Linked DNA regions of Homo sapiens: region 1 is linked to region 2. Evidence: fine-mapped expression QTL. Tissue or cell type: whole blood. Region 2 holds a variant in brackets; the other region holds the start of a gene. All regions are shown on one strand. Distances are between the middles of the regions.

What was found. PIP is the estimated chance that this variant, and not a neighbour inherited with it, causes the effect. A credible set is the group of variants that fine-mapping cannot tell apart.
Region 1: ZNF329 starts here. The variant in region 2 is the best candidate, but not a certain one, in a credible set for the expression of ZNF329 in whole blood (INTERVAL, PIP 0.79).

What each region holds. Positions count from the first base shown.
Region 1 is chr19:58,148,755-58,153,151 of GRCh38, reverse strand. ZNF329 (zinc finger protein 329) reads left to right here and starts at 2,363. Exons shown (of 4, transcript NM_024620.4): 1 at 2,363-2,400. RefSeq lists an enhancer at 2,227-2,286.
Region 2 is chr19:58,101,219-58,105,615 of GRCh38, reverse strand. It overlaps a transcript of ZSCAN18 not described here. Among named protein-coding and RNA genes, the nearest start is that of ZSCAN18, 5.2 kb to the right of the region's middle. The variant C/G (reference allele first, on the strand shown) is at 2,234.

The DNA.
Region 1 (4,397 bases), 48 kb before region 2:
GGGGACAGAGTGAGACTCAGTCTCAAAAAATACAAAAAAGAATATACACTTGTGCCAGCACAGTACTTAGCACTAAGGATTTCTCTTTGCCACTGAATGGAAAAAACACCCTTGTTATTATTAATGATGTTATGCTTTATTGTTAACTTTATTACTAGATTATTACTTTTACTCATCTCTTCTTGCATACTCTTCTATTCTTCTGATATTTGTGTCTGTATTAGTGCCTATTTGAGCCCATCTGCTTAATATGGTACATTTTAGTATCTAATAAAGGGTGCCTGACTTTTTTTTTTGAGACGAGAGTATAGCTGTCACCCAGGCTGGAGTGCAGTGGCACGATCTCAGCTCACTGCAACCTCCGCCTCCAGGATTCAGGCAATTCTCCTGCCTCAGCCTCCGGAGTAGCTAGGATTATAGGCACCCGCCACCACCCCCGGCTAATTTTTGTATTTTTAGTAGAGACAGGTTTCACAATGTTTGCCAGGCTGGTCTTGAATTCCTGACCTCAAGTGATCCACCTGCCTCGGCCTCCCAAAGTGCTGGGATTACAGTTGTGAGCCACCGCGTCCGGTCTCCGACTGTTCTTTTAACCAGATACTGTTGGACTTTTCTCCATATGATCTTTAAGTTGTTTTATTCTGTGAGCTGGGGGCGGGGGGAGTCTTTGAATTGGAATTGCTATACTTTTGTTTAGTAGTTTTGTGAAGATTTTTTTTTTTTTTTTGAGACCGAGTACTAGGATTGCAGGCATGAGCCACTGTGCCCAGCCAATTTTTATATTTTTAGAGATGGGGTTTCACCATGTTGGCCAGGCTCATCTTGAACTCCTGACCTCAGGTGATCCCCCCAGCCCGGCTTCCCAAAGAGTTGGAATTACAGGCATGAGCCACTGTGCCTGGTCTGATACGGCCTTCATGGAGAAATTAAAAAAATACTTTCCATTCAGGAATAATATGTCAGTGTGTTCTGAACTTAACTTCAGGTCTGTTAATGAGGTTTTTGTATTTTCTTCATGAAGATCCTTTATTGCTTTTGCTAATTGATTTCCAAGTTGCTCCAACCATCACTATTGTGAGTGACAATTTAATCACTATTATGGCTTAGAATTTTTTTTCTAATTTTCATTTCAAAATTGTGAAGTATTTCAACCTGCGGAGAGGTTCGGAGAGTAATAGAATAATCTATAAATAATAAAGATGACACCCATGTATCATCGAGATTTTACCTGTGTTAACATGTAGTCAGATTTTCAGGTTTTGATTTGTTTTTTCCTATCAAGCATCACAGGTGTAACTGAGGTCTCCTTTGTCTCCTCCCCAACTCTTTCCCCTCAGTTGCCACTTTCTTGAGGTTGGACAATCTATCTGGTCCATGTTATTGTTACTTTACTACTTATGTATCAATCTCTGTATAACATATAGATTTTGTGTCTTTTATTTCCAGGTAAGTTGTATCATGTGGATAAGTGCACAGTTTACTTTTCGAACTGTTTTTGGAGAACTGTCTATCTTGTATATAAGTTAGTCCTTTTTTTTTTTTTTTTTTTTGAGACGAAGTCTCCCTCTTGTCCCCCAGGCTGGAGTGTGATGGTACGATCTCAGCTCACTGCAACCTCCGCCTCCCAGGTTCAAGTGATTCTCTTGCCTCAGCCTCCCGAGGAGCTGGGATTACAGGCGCCTGCCACCACGCCTAGCTAATTTTTGTATTTTTAGTGGAGACGGGGTTTCACCATGTTGGCCAGGCTGGTCTCAAACTCCTGACCTTAGGTGAGCCCAGTCCGTTTGTTTTAACCACCCCCTATTGCTCCGTTGCACATACCACAGTTTCTCTCTTCCCTGTCAGTAAATATTTAGGCTTCCCCATGCTAAAGTTTAAGAGAACCACTGAAAGAATGAAAATGTGTAGTTTTCATTTTCAACCGGCTATTGTTACTACAGAGGAAAGTTACTGGCTTTGTTTACATTTCTTAGATCTAGTCATTTTAACAAATTAGGCCTCCCAAAATGCTGGGATTACAGGCGTGAGCCACGCACCCAGTAAATAATTATATTGCCAATGAATAATGAGTGTACTTATTCTGAATTTTAACATTATTATCTCAAAAAAAGATTATAGATAAAGAAATATTTTAGGAAATTATGCAGTAAATAAAAGGAAGGCTCTATAACAAAAGAATGATAGCATCGGGTTAAAAATCAGAGGAGACCATAGGAGAAAGTAAATGCCTGCGCGTCCGCCCCGAGGCAAGTCCACGCCAGGGTAATGAATAACCCGGTACCCGCGGCCGCCCCAGCGTTGGGCGGGGGAAGCTCGGGGACTCCGCGCACGCGCACATCCTTGTCCCGGCAGCCGCGCAAGCGCAATCGCCCGGAACATGGCTGCCGCCGGCCGCCAACCGTAAGTGCCGACGCATCCCTGAGCCCTGCGCTGCCTCCGTTTCCTGCGGAGGGAAGTCTTGGCGGGTGGAGGTCCGCCGGGTCCTTGTGGGGCGGCGAGGGGCGCGTCCGCGGGTGGGTTTCACCTGGGTGGTGGGCATGTCGGGCCCGCTAGGGCGAGGGTCTGGCCAGGGGCGTAGTTCTCCTGGTGGGTGGGGACGCTCCGTGGCGATTGGGGTCACTCCTCTGAGGACGAGGTCGCTCCGGGGCTGGTCTGGACGCCCCCGCTCTTTCCTTAGCGTCACCCGTGAGTTCCGCGCTCGCATCTCTAGCCCGCCCTCCCATAGAGACTGTTTTGCCACGCCTGCTGGGTGTCCTGGTCCGTCTCCGGGGGTAACCCCCGAGTCTGCAGCTTTTCTGTCAGGTGTGAGGGGCAGTGTAGGCTTGGGTCGGCCTCCGGCTGAATTGGCGGCCGTGAGCCAGTGGGCTGAGCCGCTTCCCCTTGAGTCTCGAAGGTGTTAGATCACCTGTGTGTTTTTCCATTTGATATTTGCAAAATCATGTTTTACTGCAATTCTCAGTGAGGGCCGCATTTTTGCACGTGTTTAGTGACCATTTTGCTGTCTTTTCCCTTGGTTTAGTGGCATATTTCCTTTGTGCAGTCTTCCAGTCTCAATATTTTATGACATAAAATGTTGGTTTAGATAGAGAAGCTGAAAGACTTGTGCAGTGAACGACCCGGTTAACGTCTGCTGAACTTACTGTATCCCTTATCTTTCCTTCTGTCCATCCTTTCAGCCATTCATTAATCCACCTATTTTTGGAAACATTTCAAAGTAAGTTGCAGATATCACAACACTTCTCCCTCAAACACCTCACTATGCTTACCATGAATTAGAGTTCAGTAGTGCTTTTTTAAATTTTTTGAGCCAAAATTGACTTTCAGTGAAATGCACAGATATTCCCTGTACCATTGATGAATTTTGACAAATGCAACCTAAACCTTTATTAAAATTACCATCAGCCTGAAAAGGTCCTTTATTTTTTGCCAAGTTAAAAAATTTGGCTATAGGAACTTGGGCTTGTTGAAGTACGTTTTGAATACCCAGTTTTTGTCTGTTTTTTCTTTTTTCCCACAGCAAGTGACTTTCCTCCATTCTACTGCTTGTTTACCTCTCTCTTCACCCAACTTTTCATTTTGAAAAGTTCCGCATTTGCATAGAAGTTGCAGGAATAGTTTAACACTTCTAAAACCATCCAGATTCTAAAATTATTAACACTTTTTGCCACATTAGCTTTATCTTTATCTTCTCCCTGCCTGAGACACATGCATAGGTGTTACCAGAAAGGGGGTCCCGAGCTATAACCCAACAGAGGGTTCTTATATCTTGGGAAAGAAAATTCAGGGCGAGTCCATAGAGTAAAGTGAAAGCAAGCTTATTAAGAAAGTAAAGGAATAAAAAAATGGCTACTCCATAGATAGAGCAGCCCCAAGAACTGCTGGTCGCCCATTTTTATGGTTATTTCTTGATTATATGCTAAACAAGGGGTGGATTATTCATGCCTACCATTTTTAGGCCATATAGGGTAACTTCCTGATGTTTCCATGACATTTGTAAACTGTCATGGTGCTAGTGGGAGCAGGACCAGAGGTCACTCTCGTTGCCATCTTGGTTTTGGTGGGTTTTAGCCACCTTTACTGCAAGCTGTTTTATCAACAAGGTCTTTATGACCTGTATCTTGTGCAAATCTCCTGTGTTATCCTATGACCTAGAATGCCTTAACTGTCTGGAAATGCAGCCCAGTAGGTTTCAGCCTTATTTTACCCAGTCCCCATTTAAGATGGAGGTTTGCTTTGGTTCAAACGCCTCTGACATAGGGTTTTCTTTTTATATTTTACACACACTTGTACACACAGCAGGTGTTGCAGAGGCAGGTGTGATACAGACATATATTTACATACACTTAGTTTTTTTGGCTGAGTTACTGGAAGTATGTTATAGATATCATACCTCACTC
Region 2 (4,397 bases):
GATCTCTGCTCACTGCAAGCTCTGCCTTCCGGGTTCATGCCATTCTCCTGCCTCAGCCTCCCGAGTAGCTGGGACTACAGGCACCCGCCACCACGCCCGGCTAATTTTTTGTATTTTTAGTAGAGACTGGGTTTCACTGTGTTAGCCAGGATGGTCTCGATCTCCTGACCTCGTGATCCACCTGTCTCAGCCTCCCAAAGTGCTGGGATTACAGGCCACTGCGCCTGGGCCAGCTAAACTGCATTCTTAAATAAGAAGACTGGAAAGGCAAAATTATTACTCCTTGGTCCATGGGCTGCAGAATACACGTTGTGTTGGCAGTTGCGAGAACAACATTAATTTCCTTCTATGTCTTCATCAGAGCTCTTGTCAGTGAGCAGCCATAATTTGAATCTTTTTTTCTCAGGAGGAAGTCTCTCAACAGTGGGTTTAAAATATTCAGTACACCATACTGTAAACACGTACTGTCATCCAGGCTTTGTTTACATTTATAGACAGCACTCAGAGTAGATTTAACTTAAATCTTAAGGCCCTAGGGTTTTCAGAATGGTAAATGAGCTTTGGTTTCAACTTAAAGTCACCAGTTGCATTAGCCCTTAACAAGAGTCGGCCTGTTCTTTAAAGCTTTGAAGCTAGGCACTGACTTCTTTCTAGTTGTGAAAACACTACCTGGCATTTCTTCCAACAGAAGGCTGTTTTCTTTACATTTAAACTGTTGTCTACTGTAGCGACCTTCCTCAGTGATCTTAGCTAAATCTGGAGAACTTGCTGCAGCTTCTGCATTAGCACTTGCTGCTTCACCTTGCACTTTTATGTTACGGAGATGACTTAAACTTCATGAACCAACCTCTGCTAGCTTCAGACTTTTTTATTTTATTTTATTTTATTTTATTTTATTTTATTTTATTTTATTGAGATGGAGTCTCACTCTTTTGCCTAGGCTAGTGTGCAGTGGCATGATCTCGGCTCACTGCCAACCTCTGCCACCTGGGTTCAAGCAATTCTCATGCCTCAGCCTCTTGAGTAGCAGGGATTACAGGCACTTGCCACCATGCCTGGCTAATTTTTTTTGTATTTTTAGCAGAGATGGGGTTTCGCCACGTTGACCAAGCTGTTCTCAAACTCCTGACCTCAGGTGATCTGCCCATCTCTGCCTCCCAAAGTGCTGGTATTACAGGCATGAGCCACCACACCCGGCCCAGACTTTTTTTTTGTTTTGTTTTGTTTTGTTTTGTTTTTGAGACAGCCTCACTCTGTTGCCCAGGCTGGAGTGCAGTGGCACGATCTCAGCTCACTGCAACCTTCGCCTCCCAGGTTCAAGCAATTCTCCTGCCTCAGACTCCTGAGTAGCTGGGACTACAGGCGCACGCCACCATGCCCAGCTAATTTTTGTATTTTTAGTAGAGGTGGGGTTTCACCATGTTGGCTAAGCTGGTCTTGAACTGCTGACCTCAGGTGATCCATCCCGCTTGGCCTCCCAAAGTGTTGGGATTACAGGCATGAGCCACTGTGCCTGGCCGGCTCAGAATTTTCTTCTGCATCTTCCTCGCCTCTCACAGCCTTCATAGAAATGAAGAGAGTCAGGACCTTGCTCTGGATTAGGCTTTGGCTTAAGAGAATGTTAGTTCTCTTTGGGTAGTTTGATCTCCTATCCAGACCATTAAAGCTTTCTCCCTATTGGCGACAAGGCTGTTTCAGTTTCTTGTCATTCACATATTCACTGGAGTCACACTTTTCATTTCCCTCAAGTTTTTCTCTTGGCCATCACAATTTGGCTGTTTGGCACAAGAGGGCTAAGTTTTGGCCTGTCTTTGACACGCCTTCCTTACTAAGCTTAATCATTTCTAGCTTTTGATTTGAAGTTAGAGGTCTGACTCTGCCTTTCACTTGAACACTTAGTGGCCATTGTAGGGTTATTAACTGGCCTAAGTTCAATATTGTTTTGTCTCAGGGAATAGGGAGGCCTGAGGAAAGAGATTGAGAGAGAGTGCGTACCAGCGAGCAATGGCAGGTTGGTGGAGGAATCAGGACACACAACATTTATCTGCTGAGTTCATTGTCTTATATAGGCGTGGTTCCTTTCACTCCAGAACAATTACAATAGTTACAACAAAAATTACTGATCACAGATCACCATAACAGATAATAATAATGCAATAGTTTGAAGTATTGTGAGAATTACCAAAATGTGACACAGAGACACAGAGAGCATATGCTGTTTGATAAATGGTGA[C/G]AATAGACTTAATTGACACAGGTTGCCACAAACCTTCAACTTGTAAAAAATGCAATATCTGCATAGGATAATTAAGCAAAGTGCAAGAAAACAAGGTAATGCCTATATCTGGAAGTTAGTCGTGACACAGAACCTAAAGACTTACCGTATTTCCTTTATTCTGTGATACATATCTTGCCATATTTTAACATCTGAAAACAAACCAGGTTAATCAGTGATATGGTTTAATTGGCAGCCTTTTTTTATTTTTTTATTTTTTTTTAGAGAGAGTCTCGCTGTGTCACCCAGGCTGGAGTACAGTGGTGCTATCTTGGCTCACTGTAGCCTCCACCTGCCAGGTTCAAGCGATTCTGCTGCCTCGGCCTCCCAAGTAGCTGAGATTAGAGGTGCACACCACCACACCCAGCTAATTTCTGTATTGTAGTAGAGACGAGGTTTTGCCAGGCTGGTCTTGAACTCCTGACCTCAGGTGGTCCACCCACCTCGGCCTCCCAAAGTGCTGAGATTACAGGTGTGAGGCACTGTGCTAGGCCTCAGGCAGCCTTTTATTAGCACATAAAATGTACATGTTACCATCTGTTATCTTGGAATCAATGAAATAAGAGTAATATCAGAAGGAGGAATTGAATGACTAGTGAGAGTCCATTTGAGGAGAAATACAACTCTCAAGGAAAAAATCTTGTTGCTGAGATGACAATTAACATTGACATATCCGATGCAGTACAAAATGGCAAGTCTGTGTGCCATTGTAGTCCTTCCTACCTTGCTGAATAATCATTGTTACCTGCCTTCTTTCTTATAGCCTGTGTCAGCCATAATTGTTATTTTATTGCAAGATTTTTAAAGTTCATAATGTGGGGGGAAGCCAAACAGCACAGAAGAGTATATGGTTTGTTTGTTTGTTTGTTTGTTTGTTTGTTTTGAGATGGAGTCTTGCTCTGTCGCCCAGGCTGGAGTGCAGTTGCGTGATCTTGGCTCTCTGCAAGCTCTGCCTCCCGGGTTCACACCATTCTCCTGCCTCAGCCTCCCTAGTAGCTGGGACTACAGGCGCCCGCCACCATGCCCGGCTAATTTTTTTGTATTTTCTTGGTAGAGACAGGGTTTCACCGTGTTAGCCAGGATGGTCTCAATCTCCTGACCTCGTGAGCAGCCCACCTCGGCCTCCCAAATTGCTGGGATTACAGGCGTGAACCACTGCGCCCGGCTGAGTATATGGGGTTTTTTAGTAAGCTGCCTAAACAGGGAAAAGTCACCGTCCTTATGGAGCTTCTACTCTAGCTTTTATACTGAAATACCTTTTGGTCAGTAATCGTGTGTGTGTGTATGCATGTGTGCATTTTGAGGCTTTTATTTATAAAAGAAAACATAATATGCCTGGAAGCTAATAGGTGCTCATTTAAGTGTGTGATCTCTGGCTGCTTAGAAGGCCTATATAGGAAACTCAACCCTAATTAAAGAAAAAAGTTATGTGAAATTACATGAACACACTGGTGCAGGACCATGTAAATATTAGCAGCATGGTTAGGAGTGAGATTCTGTCTCAAAAAACAAAGAAAAAAAAAAGGCTGGGTGCGGTGGCTCACACCTGTAATCCTAGCACTTTGGGAGGCCAAGGTGGGCGAATCACCTGAGGTCAAGAGTTTGAGACCAGCCTGGTCAACATGGTGAAACCCCGTCTCTACTAAAAATACAAAAATTAGCCAGGCATGGTAGCACATACCTGTAATCCCAGCTACTCAGGAGGCTGAGGCAGAAGAACCACTTGAACCCAGGAGGCAGAGTTTACAGTGAGCTGAAATTGCATCACTGCACTCCAACCTGGGTGACAGAGCAAGACTCTGTCTCAAAAAAAAAAAAAAAAAAGAAGAAGATAAAGTATATGGGAAAGCACAAGACTTGGAATAGTTAAAATAACTTTGAAAAAGAAAAAAAGTGGCCGGGCGCAGTGGCTCATGCCTGTAATCCCAGCACTTTGGGAGGCCAAGGCGGGTGGATCATGAGGTCAGGAGATCGAGACCATCCTGGCTAACATGGTGAAACCCTGTCTCTACTAAAAATACAAAAAAAAAAAAAAAAAAAAAAATTAGCTGGGCATGGTGGCGGGCGCCTGTAGTCCCAGCTATTCGGGAGGCTGAGGCAGGAGAATGGCGTGAACCCGGGAGGT